Linked DNA regions of Homo sapiens: region 1 is linked to region 2. The links come from fine-mapping of genetic effects on gene expression. A gene starts in region 2. The other region holds a variant in brackets. All regions are shown on one strand. Distances are between the middles of the regions. Region 1 has its middle 13 kb from the start of ENSA. Region 2 holds the start of MCL1 (MCL1 apoptosis regulator, BCL2 family member).

Evidence for each region. PIP is the estimated chance that this variant, and not a neighbour inherited with it, causes the effect.
Region 1: its variant is the best candidate, but not a certain one, in a credible set for the expression of MCL1 in whole blood (TOPMed, PIP 0.58).

Annotation. Positions count from the first base shown.
Region 1 is chr1:150,640,101-150,645,435 of GRCh38, forward strand. No RefSeq gene overlaps it. Among named protein-coding and RNA genes, the nearest start is that of ENSA, 13 kb to the left of the region's middle. RefSeq lists an enhancer at 1,017-1,632. The variant G/A (reference allele first, on the strand shown) is at 2,390.
Region 2 is chr1:150,577,385-150,582,701 of GRCh38, forward strand. It overlaps MCL1 (MCL1 apoptosis regulator, BCL2 family member), which reads right to left and starts at 2,226. Exons shown (of 3, transcript NM_021960.5): 1 at 1,459-2,226; 2 at 860-1,107; 3 at 1-107. The coding sequence starts at 2,146. It overlaps LOC107985203 (a long non-coding RNA gene), which reads left to right and starts at 2,446. Exons shown (of 3, transcript NR_186818.1): 1 at 2,446-2,835. RefSeq lists enhancers at 484-1,683, 644-1,362, 1,363-2,080, 2,129-2,423 and silencers at 1,997-2,126, 2,197-2,536.

The DNA.
Region 1 (5,335 bases), 63 kb after region 2:
AACCCCGTCTCTACTAAAAATACAAAAAAAATTAGCCAGGCATGGTGGCATATGCCTGTAATCCCAGCTGTCAGGCCTCTGAGCCCAAACCAAGCCATCGCATCCCCTGTGACTTGCACGTATACACCCAGATGGCCTGAAGTAACTGAAGATCCACAAAAGAAGTAAAAATAGCCTTAACTGATGACATTCCACCATTGATTTGTTCCTGTCCCACCCTAACTGATCAATGTACTTTGTAATCTCCCCCACCCTTAAGAAAGTTCTTTGTAATTCTCCCCACCCTTGAGAATGTACTTTGTGAGATCCACCCCTGCCCGCAAAACATTGCTCTCAACTTCACCGCCTATCCCAAAACCTATAAGAATTAATGATAATCCATCTCCCTTCGCTGACTCTCTTTTCGGCACCCAGGTGAAATAAATACCCATGTTGCTCACACAAAGCCTGTTTGGTGGCCTCTTCACACGGACGCACATGAAACCAGCTACTTGGGAGGCTGAGGCAGGAGAATTGCTTGAACCCGGGAGGCGGAGGTTGCGGTGACCCGAGATCACGCCATTGCACTCCTGCCTGGGCAACAAGAGCAAAATTCCGTCTCAGGGAAAAAAAAAAAATTAGCTGGGTGTGGTGGGGCAGGCCTGTAATCCCAGCTACTCAGGAGGCTGAGGCAGGAGAATCACTTGAACCTGGGAGGCGGAGGTTGCAGAGTCGAGATCATGCCATTGCCCTCCAGCCTGGGCGACTGAGTGAGACTCCATCTTAAAAAAAAAAAAAAAAAAAGTCTTTTATTACTTTTTGAGCATTTAAAGAGTATTTTTTGGCCAGACGGTGTGGCTCACGCCTGTAATCCCAGTATTTTGGGAGGCCCAGGCGGGTGGATCACTTGAAGCCTCCAGCCTGGCCAACATGGCAGGAGAATGACTGGAACCCGGGAGGTGGATGTTGCAGTGAGCCAAGATGGTGTCACTGCACTCCAGCCTGGGTGACAGAGAGAGACTCTGTCTCAAAGACAAAAAGAAAATTTGTTCAGTATTTTCTTCAATCAGCTTTCTCAGACTGAATGTTCACCCTTTTAAATATTCATAATGTTCCTGAGAATCCATTTGGCTATTCTGTTTTCTTCACCCTTCTCCAGCCTTCCCCTCCTCAATTCGACCCATTTCTTCCCTACTTCCCAAAAGAAAAAATATCTACTTTGGATTAATATAAATCAGTTTAATCTAACTTATTCAAGACTTTTTTGGCCTCTACTTGGAGGTTCAAGAAAAGGTGTGTCAGGCCTCTGAGCCCAAGCTAAGCCATCATATCCCCTGTGACCTGCACATACACATCCAGATGGCCGGTTCCTGCCTTAACTGATGACATTCCACCACAAAAGAAGTGAAAATGGCCTGTTCCTGCCTTAACTGATGACATTGTCTTGTGAAATTCCTTTTCCTGGCTCATCCTGTCTCAAAAAGCTCCCCTACTGAGCACCCTGTGACCCCCACTCTGTCCGCCAGAGAACAACACCCCTTTGACTGTAATTTTCCTTTATCTACCCAAATCCTATAAAACAGCCGCACCCTTATCTTCCTTCGCTGACTCTCTTTTTGGACTCAGCCCGCCTGCACCCAGGTGAAATAAACAGCCATGTTGCTCACACAAAGCCTGTTTGGTGGTCTCTTCACACGCACGAGCATGAAAGTGAGGTGATACAACGAGGGGGAAAAGAATTATTATTATTATTATTAAGGCTAACCTACAAATATTTTGAGGTATTTTATGGGTTTAAATATCCATAAATCTTTGAAGAAGTCTCACTTTCAGATAAGGAGGAAACATTTCAGTATCTCTGAAATACAAGAAAAACTTAGGATTAAAATTTTTCTCATTAAATCAGGAAAATGATGTACATTTATTGGACTGATTTTTTTCTTGTGGCAGAAACATGGATTCAGTCAAGAAGCCCTTCTGAAGGAGTAGAAGGCCCTAGATTCCCAGGTAAGCTTCTGAAGGAAATTCAGTTAAATCTACTATCATACTTTGGGAGGTTGAATTAGATTAAGAAAAACAAAGCGGTAGCCAGATTATTTATATTCTGGGAAAAAATTCTACACAAAAGAGCTCTTAGAGAATATTTAGTTTTTCCCCTCTGGTTCAATTTACTTTTTTACAATTTGGAATGCAAAGGAAAACTGACACGGTAAGTGAGCTGGGCTGCTAGAAAACGGAGATTTCTGCCAGGAAGTGACTCTCGCTTTGACTTGCATTCGATAAAATTTTACTGCTTTCTGGGAGAGATGGCTCCCTCAATTATCAATAAAAAGTCACTTTTCAGCTGAGCACGGTGGCTCATGCCTATAATCCTAGCACTTTGGGAGGCTGAGACAGGAGGATCCCTTGA[G/A]CCCAGGAGTTTGAGACCAGGCTGGGCAACACAGGGAGACCCCCCTGCCTCTACAAAACAACAAAAAAAGCATGTTTGGTTTGTCTCTTTCCAAATTACCTAGACAACTTGGAACTCAGCAGAAAAATAAGACAGACCAAGGCTTTGAGAATAATTGCAGACACAGAAACAAAGAGTACATACACACATGTAACAGATAATAGAAAAATATCAAAAAAGCAGTGTTACCTAACATTTCAGCATTAAAGTGATTATTTTTATTCTTTAGGGAGAGTAAAACACATTTTAAGAAACCATATGAATATACACTTATGGGCATTTTAGCTGTGTGGCAAAAAGGAAGAACAAATTTTATCTGTTAGAATCTAAATTAAATTTCAGTTTTGTTGTAATTTAATGTCAGAAAGCATGCATGCATACATGTAAGACAGTGGAATATATAAAGTGTTGAAAGACAAAAACAACCCACCAACCTAGAATTATTTCTGTTGTTGTTGTTGTAGAACTGGGGCTCTGGCTATGTTGCCCAGGCTGGTCATAAACTCCTGGCCTCAAGTGATCCTCCTGCCTCGGCCTCCCAAAGTGCTGGGATTACAGGTGAGCTATTGTACCCAGCCCAACATAGAATTCTATTTCCAGTTAAATTATCCTTCCAAAATGAAGGATAAATAAAGACTTTCTTAGACAAAAACTGAGGGAATTCACATCCAGCTGACTTGCTCTGTAAGAAATGTTATTGAGAGAGGGAAAATGATAAGTAGGAAACTCAGTTCTTCTTTTTTTTTTTTTAGTTTTGTTCTTTCACCCAGGCTGGAATTAAGTGGCACAATCTCGGCTCACTGCAACCTCTGCCCCCCAGGTTCAAGCCATTTTCCTGCCTCAGCCTCCCCAGTAGCTGGGATTATAGGTGACCGCCACCACACCCATCTAATTTTTGTATTTTTAGTAGAGATGGTGTTTCGCCAGGTTGGCCAGGCTGGTCTCGAACCCCTGACCTTAGGCAATCTGCCTGTTCGGGCTCCCAAAGTGCTAGGATTACAGGTGTGAGCCACTGTGCCTGGCTGGAAACTCAGTTCTATATAAAGAAAAGCAATGGGAAAGGAATAAGGAAAGGTAAACAAACAACAAAAACAATTTAGCTTGTCCTGGTGCATGTGCCTGTAATCCCAACTACTGGAGAGGCTGAGGCGGGAGGATCCCTTGAGGCCAGGAGTTTGAGGCATTATTGGGCTATGATAGCGCCTGTGAATAGCCACTGCACTCCAGCCTTGGCAACAAAGTGAGACCCCATCTCTAAAAAAAGAGCTGCCAGTTTCAAAATCCTTTGTTTAGTTTACAACTTGAATATATTCTCTTATTTTCTGGGCTGAGCGCAGTGGCTCATGCCTGTAATCCCAGCACTTTGGGAGGCTGAGGCGGGTGGATCACCTGAGGTCAGGAGTTTGAGACTAGTCTGGCCAACATGGTGAAACCCCATCTCTACTAAAAATATAAGAAATTAGCCAGGCGTGGTGGTGGGTGCCTGTAATCCCAGCTACTAAAGAGGCTGAGGCAGGAGAATCACTTGAACCTAGGAGGCGGAGGTTGCAGTGAGCTGAGATCCAGCCTGGGCAACAAGAGTGAAACTCCATCTCAAAAAAAAAATTTTTTTTTTCTGGAAATATGTGAAAACGACATGCATTCATGAAATTCTAGCACATCACCAATTATCTTGTACATATTATTTCCTCTGCATAGGGTAGCCTTGGCTCTTCCCTCTTAGCCTGAAAAGATCCTTTGAGACTTTTTAAACATTTTTTTAAAAATAGAGACAAGGTCTTGCTATGGCCCAGGCTGGTCTTGAATTCCTGGACTCCAGTGATCCTCCCACCTTGGCCTCCTAAAGTGCTGGGACTACAGGCATAAGCCACCGTGGCCCAGCCGATCCTTTGAGATTTAGTTCAAATGAAGGCAAGAAAGGGTAGTGATTAAAAAGTAGGTGTTTGAACTGAAGCTCTGCACTAGGTCCTCAGGCAAGCCTCATTACCTGAGTTTTCTTTTTTTTTTTTTTGAGACACAGTCTTGCTCTGTCACCCAGGCTGGAGTACAGTGACACGATCTTGACTCACTACAGCCTCCACCTCCCGGGTTCCAGCGATTCTCCTGCTTCAGCCTCCCGAGTAGCTGGGACTACAGGCATGTGCCACCATGCCGGGCTAATTTTTGTATTTTTAATAGAGATGGGATTTCACCATGTTGGCCAGGCTGGTCTCGAACTCTTGACCTCAGGTGATCCAGCCGCCTTGGCCTCCCAAAGTGCTGGGAATACAGGCATGAGCCACCACACCCAGCCACCGGAGTTTTCTTTAAAAGAACACTGTAGAGTTTTTTTTTTTTTTTAGTGTTGTAATAAATGAGACAAGATACAAAGCAGTTAGCATAGTACCTACCTCACAACAAAAGTGCTCAATATATGATAACCATAATAAATACAACACCTCAAAGTCTTCCCTAACATTCCCAGGGAGAATACTATTTATTTGTGCTTCCAAATATTATGTTTATACTTCTATTTGAGCATTTGTCACAAATTATATTATTTGCCCACATAAATGTGCATTCTTGGGAGCTAGAATGGTGCCCTATGCAATGTTTTATTGTCAGTGCCTAGCAAGTGCCCATCAATTTGTAAGTACTCAATATTTTTTTGATGAATGAATTATAGACAATAAGATATAGGGTGGCGTTCTCCAATTTTAACATGCAAGCTTTTAGAGTTTCTTTTTTTTTGAGACGGAGTCTCGCTCTATCGCCCAGGCTGGAGTGTAGAGGCGCAATCTTGGCTCACTGCAACCTCCGCCTCCCAGATTCAAGCAATTCTCCTGCCTCAGCCTCCTGAGTAGCTGGGATTACAGGAGTGCGCCACTATGGCCAGCTAATTTTGTATTTTTAGTAGAGATGGGGTTT
Region 2 (5,317 bases):
AGATATGCCAAACCAGCTCCTACTCCAGCAACACCTGCAAAAGCCAGCAGCACATTCCTGATGCCACCTTCTAGGTCCTCTACATGGAAGAACTCCACAAACCCATCCTAGAAAACAAAAAAGAAAAGCACATTTTCAAGTATGGGTTTCTGCTCTCTTACAACACTACTATCCAGAGAGAAGGTAAATTAAAATATCTAAGGTTTCCCCCTAAAGCAATAGTAAACCAATTATTATTCACCCCGGGGCAAAAAAAGAAAATAAGTTCTTCAGTTTCTTAAGCGGGGACCCATGATAATTAAACTTCATTTTACAGTACTATCTTGGTCTTATTAGGATTTATCCTAACAAAAGGACTTCCAGAGTTCCCATGAGGTAAAAGACGAAAACCCTTATTCTCAAATCTCCACCACCTAATATTTCAGTAACGCCTCAATTGCGCAGATCAGTTTTTCTCAACGTAGTTAAGTACATCCTGCATCAGATCTGGGTTTGTTTAAAACGCAGGCTCCACCCCATATCTTCTCCATTAAAACAGGCACCGCCTTAGGAATTATTTCAGCTATCCTCCCCTGGTGACTTATTTTTTCATGGTTTGAATCCACTGAAGAGTATTCAACTGAATTGGAACAAAAAATTGCCTAGAGAAAACCAAGATTTTTGATACAATTCAAGACCGCCATACCACTATCTCTAAGGATCCACTACTTAAATCAACATCAAATAAACAATGGTCCTTTAGTTAGAGCCTGCAAACAGCCGTGCGTCATAAAAACCTTTAGATATCCCCACCTCTCTAAAAAAAATCCTTCATTCTACTTCCACTCCAAGGCCCCTTTCATCCTTAAGGCAAACTTACCCAGCCTCTTTGTTTAACTAGCCAGTCCCGTTTTGTCCTTACGAGAACGTCTGTGATACTTTCTGCTAATGGTTCGATGCAGCTTTCTTGGTTTATGGTCTTCAAGTGTTTAGCCACAAAGGCACCAAAAGAAATGAGAGTCACAATCCTGCCCCAGTTTGTTACGCCGTCGCTGAAAACATGGATCATCACTCGAGACAACGATTTCACATCGTCTTCGTTTTTGATGTCCAGTTTCCGAAGCATGCCTGAGAAAGAAAAGCATGCAGGTCCTCACGGCCTCCTTTGTCTAAACCGGCGCAAGATTCGCCTGCCCACCCGCGGCGGGAAAATCGCTACTGGGATTTACAGAACTCAGGTTGACCCCACTTGAAATTGACATCCCACCCTTTCCGGTCTTTGAACAAGAGCTGCCATTTCCAAAAGAATCAAGATGGGCGGAAACAATGACTCATGGCCAGAATATTCTGGCTTCAGGAATAGGATGAGACACGTTTCAACACTGACTCGTTTCGGTTTCCAACCCACCCTTGGCGGGTGAGTCCGGGGAGAGATGGAAAAAAGGGAGTGAGGCCTTGGCGATTAATGAACCCCCTTACCTTGGAAGGCCGTCTCGTGGTTGCGCTGCACGCCATCCCCAACCCGTCGTAAGGTCTCCAGCGCCTTCCTGCTGGTGGCCCCAGACCTGCCCATTGGCTTTGTGTCCTTGGCGCCGGTGGCCTGCTCCCGAAGGTACCGAGAGATAATCTCCAGCGACTGCCGGTACAACTCGTCCTCCTCCTCCTCTGCTGGCGGCGGCGTCGAGGGTAGTGACCCGTCCGTACTGGTGTTATTACCAGATTCCCCGACCAACTCCAGCAGCGGCAGGACAGCCGGCCGCTTCCCGAGAGGCTCCGGCTCGTACCCGTCCAGCTCCTCTTCGGGCGACATGATGGCGTCAGCGGCCGGGGCTTCCATCTCCTCAAGCGGCGCCGCGCGGCGGGTGGGCGCGAAGAAAAGCAGCCTCGCGGGGGTCGCGGTGACGTCGGGGACCTCGGCGCCAATGGGCGGCGGCCGCGCGACCCTCCGGGAGTCTGGCGTGAGGGTGGACGGGGGGCTTGCGCCGGCGCTTCCGCCAATCACCGCGCCGGCCTCCCCTCCCCCTATCTCTCGCCGGGCCGAGGCCTCCTTCTCCGTAGCCAAAAGTCGCCCTCCCGGGCGGGTGGCGCCGCCGCTGCCGGCCCCCAAGCCGGCCCCCCCACAGTAGAGGTTGAGTCCGATTACCGCGTTTCTTTTGAGGCCAAACATTGCCAGTCGCCGCCGCCGCCTGGCTGAGAAAACTGGGGAAGACCCCGACTCCTTACTGGAAGGAAGCGGAAGTGAGAAGTGGCGAGCAGCTCCTTTATCACGGTTTTAGGGCGGCCAGTCCTACGGGGTGGCGCCAGCGAACTCTTTTTTTTTAAAAAAAGTATTCCCATAAAAGGGGAAAGGGGCGGCAGCTTCCGGAGGGTTGCGCACGGCACCTACCAGCTGCCCGGCCGGGCCGGGGCGGGGCCGGGGCCGGGGCCGGGGCCGGGGCCTGAGCCGGGGCCTGAGCGGGGCCTTCCGGTCTTCGGAGGCTCTGAGTGCCGGTTACGTAACGGCGGCTCCGAGCGCCTGGGGTCCTCCCAGAGCTCCTGGGCTCGAGCTCTTTCCATGAGCACCTCGGGCCTTCTCGTGGCTACCTCTGTGCTTCCCTGAGACCTGATTTGTGAGCCCTTTTTGCTGGTTTTCGCCAGAGGTTTTTTACCAAATCAAAATTTCAACCATTGACTAACACAGGGGTTGAAGGAAGAGGACGGGGAAGTTCAGTGATGGATGGGAACAACAGTCTTAGATGATAGGGATAATTAAGAGGGCATAGTTGGGGACTTGTGGTTATTTTGCACAGCTCTCTACTCTCAGTCCAATGTTTGGAAATGAGGATGCTCCACGTGCTACCCTAAAGAACCATTTATGTAAGTGGACTAAGCTAAAACTGCCACAGCTAAACTATTCCTGCCTCCCTGCTTGCTTCTCCCATCTCTGTTCCATAGTCTTTGGTGCTATTTACATATAGGCCTTAATCCATTAGAATCTCGTCTGAGAGTCTTGACACCATTTTTTGTTTGTTTTGAGACAGTCTAGCTCTGTTGCCCAGGCTGGAGTGCAGTGGGGCGATCTCGGCTCACTACAAGCTCCACTTCCCACGTTCAGACGATTCGGTACCTCAGCCTCCCGAGTAGCTGGGATTACAGGCGTGCGCCACCACATCTGGCTAGTTTTTGTATTTTTGGTAGAGATGGGGTTTTCACGATGTTGGCCAGGCTGGTCTCGAACTCATGGCCTCAAGTGACCTGCCTGTCTCGGCCTCCCAAAGTGCTGAGATTACAGCTGTGAGCCACCTCGCCCAGCTGATTATTGTATTTTTAGTAGAGATGTGTTTCATGCGCGTCTGTGTGAAGACACCACCAAACAGGCTTTGTGTGAGCAACATGGCTGTTTATTTCACCTGGGTGCAGGCGGGCTGAGTCCGAAAAGAGAGTCAGCAAAGGGTGATGGATTATCATTAGTTCTTACAGGTTTTGGGATAGGTGGTGAAGTTGAGAGCAATGTTTTGTGGGCAGGGGTGGATCTCACAAAGTACATTCTCAAGGGTGGGGAGAATTACAAAGAACCTTCTTAAGGGTGGGGGAGATTACAAAGTACATTGATCAGTTCGGGTGGGGCAGAAACAAATCACAATGGTGGAATGTCATCAGTTAAGGCTATTTTTACTTCTTTTGTGGATCTTCAGTTACTTCAGGCCATCTGGATGTATACGTGCAAGTCACAGGGGATGCGATGGCTTGGCTTGGGCTCAGAGGCCTGACAATGTGGTTTCACCATGTTGGCCAGGCTGGTCTCAAACTCCTGGCCTCAGGTGATCCACCTGCCTCAGCCTCTTAAAGTGCTGGGATTACAGGTGTGAGTCACTGCACCCAGCTGACACCATTTATTTTTGTACTGATAATAAGGCACATTTGACTCTAGAGGTTTGTAAAGCCCTTGAGAACAAGGATCTTCTTATATGCCATGTATGTTAGTTAACGTTAATTAAAGCAGCCTTTTTGTTAAAAGATCTGTAAAAATAATAGCTAAAATTCAAAAGCAAGGTGCTGAGAGACATAGGAAAGGTGAGCAAGCTCACTTTTTATTTATTTTTTTGAGATGAGGTCTTGCCCTGTCACCCAGGCTGGAGTGCAGTGGCACCATCAGTGCTCATTGCTGCCTCAACCTCCTGGGCTGAAGTGATCCTCCCACCACAGCCTCGCGAGTAGCGAGGAACACAGGTGCATGCCCCTATACTTGGCTAATTTTTTTATTTCTTGTAGAGATGGGGTATCACTATTTTGCCCAGGCCGGTCTTGAACTCCTGGACTCAGGTGATCCTCCTACCTTGGCCTCCCAAAGTGTTGGGATTACAGACCGGGCTCTGTGCCTCATGCCAATAATCCCAGCACTTTGGGAGGCTGAGGTGGGTGGATCGCTTGAGCCCAGGAGTTTGAGACCAGCCTGGGAAACATGGCGAAACCCTGTCTCTACTAAAAACACAAAAATTAGATGGGTGTGGTGGTGCGCATCTGTAATACCAGCTACTCTGGAGGCTGAGACAGGAGAACTGCTTGAACCCAAGAGACGGAGGTTGCGGTGAGCCAAGATAGTGCCACTGCACTCCAGCCTGGGCAACAGAGCAAGACTTGGTCTCAAAAAAAATAATAATAATAATGAGGCCTGGCGCAGTGGCTCACACCTGCAATCCCAGCACTTTGGGAGGCCAAGGCGGGCGAATCATCTGAGGTCAGGAGTTTGAGACCAGCCCAACCAACATGGAGAAACTCCATCTCTACTAAAAATACAAAATTAGCCGGGCCGTGGTGGCACGTGCCTGTAATCCCAGCTACTTGGAAGGCTGAGGCGGGAGAATCGCTTGAACCTGGGAGGCGGAGGTTGCGGTGAGCTGAGAGTGCGCCATTGCACTCCAGCCTGGACAACAAGAGCGAAACGCCATCTCAAAAATAAATAAATAAATAAAGTGTTGGAATTATAGGCGTGAGTCTCCCTCTTGGCCAAAAGTTCCTAATCCCCAAAATGTCACAGTTTAGTAAGGTGATACGGCGTCCATACCACCCATTTATGTTTTGGGCAGGACCTAGAACCATAGGGGTTTATAGTATGAGTGGCAAGGATAGAGCATTTTGTGGTTATAGTGAATAAGAAATAGTTTCTCTATTTAAGGAATGTCTAATCTTGTACAGCAACTAACCATAATGTGAGATGGAATGTATGCTCTACACAAGGCATTAACAACTTCATTTTGGAGTTAAGAGGTTGGGAAATTCACTTTGGGCTGAGAGAGCTAGAGGAAAGTGTTATGGAGGAGGTAGCTTTGCTCTCATGCTTTATAAAGTAAAATTTTAT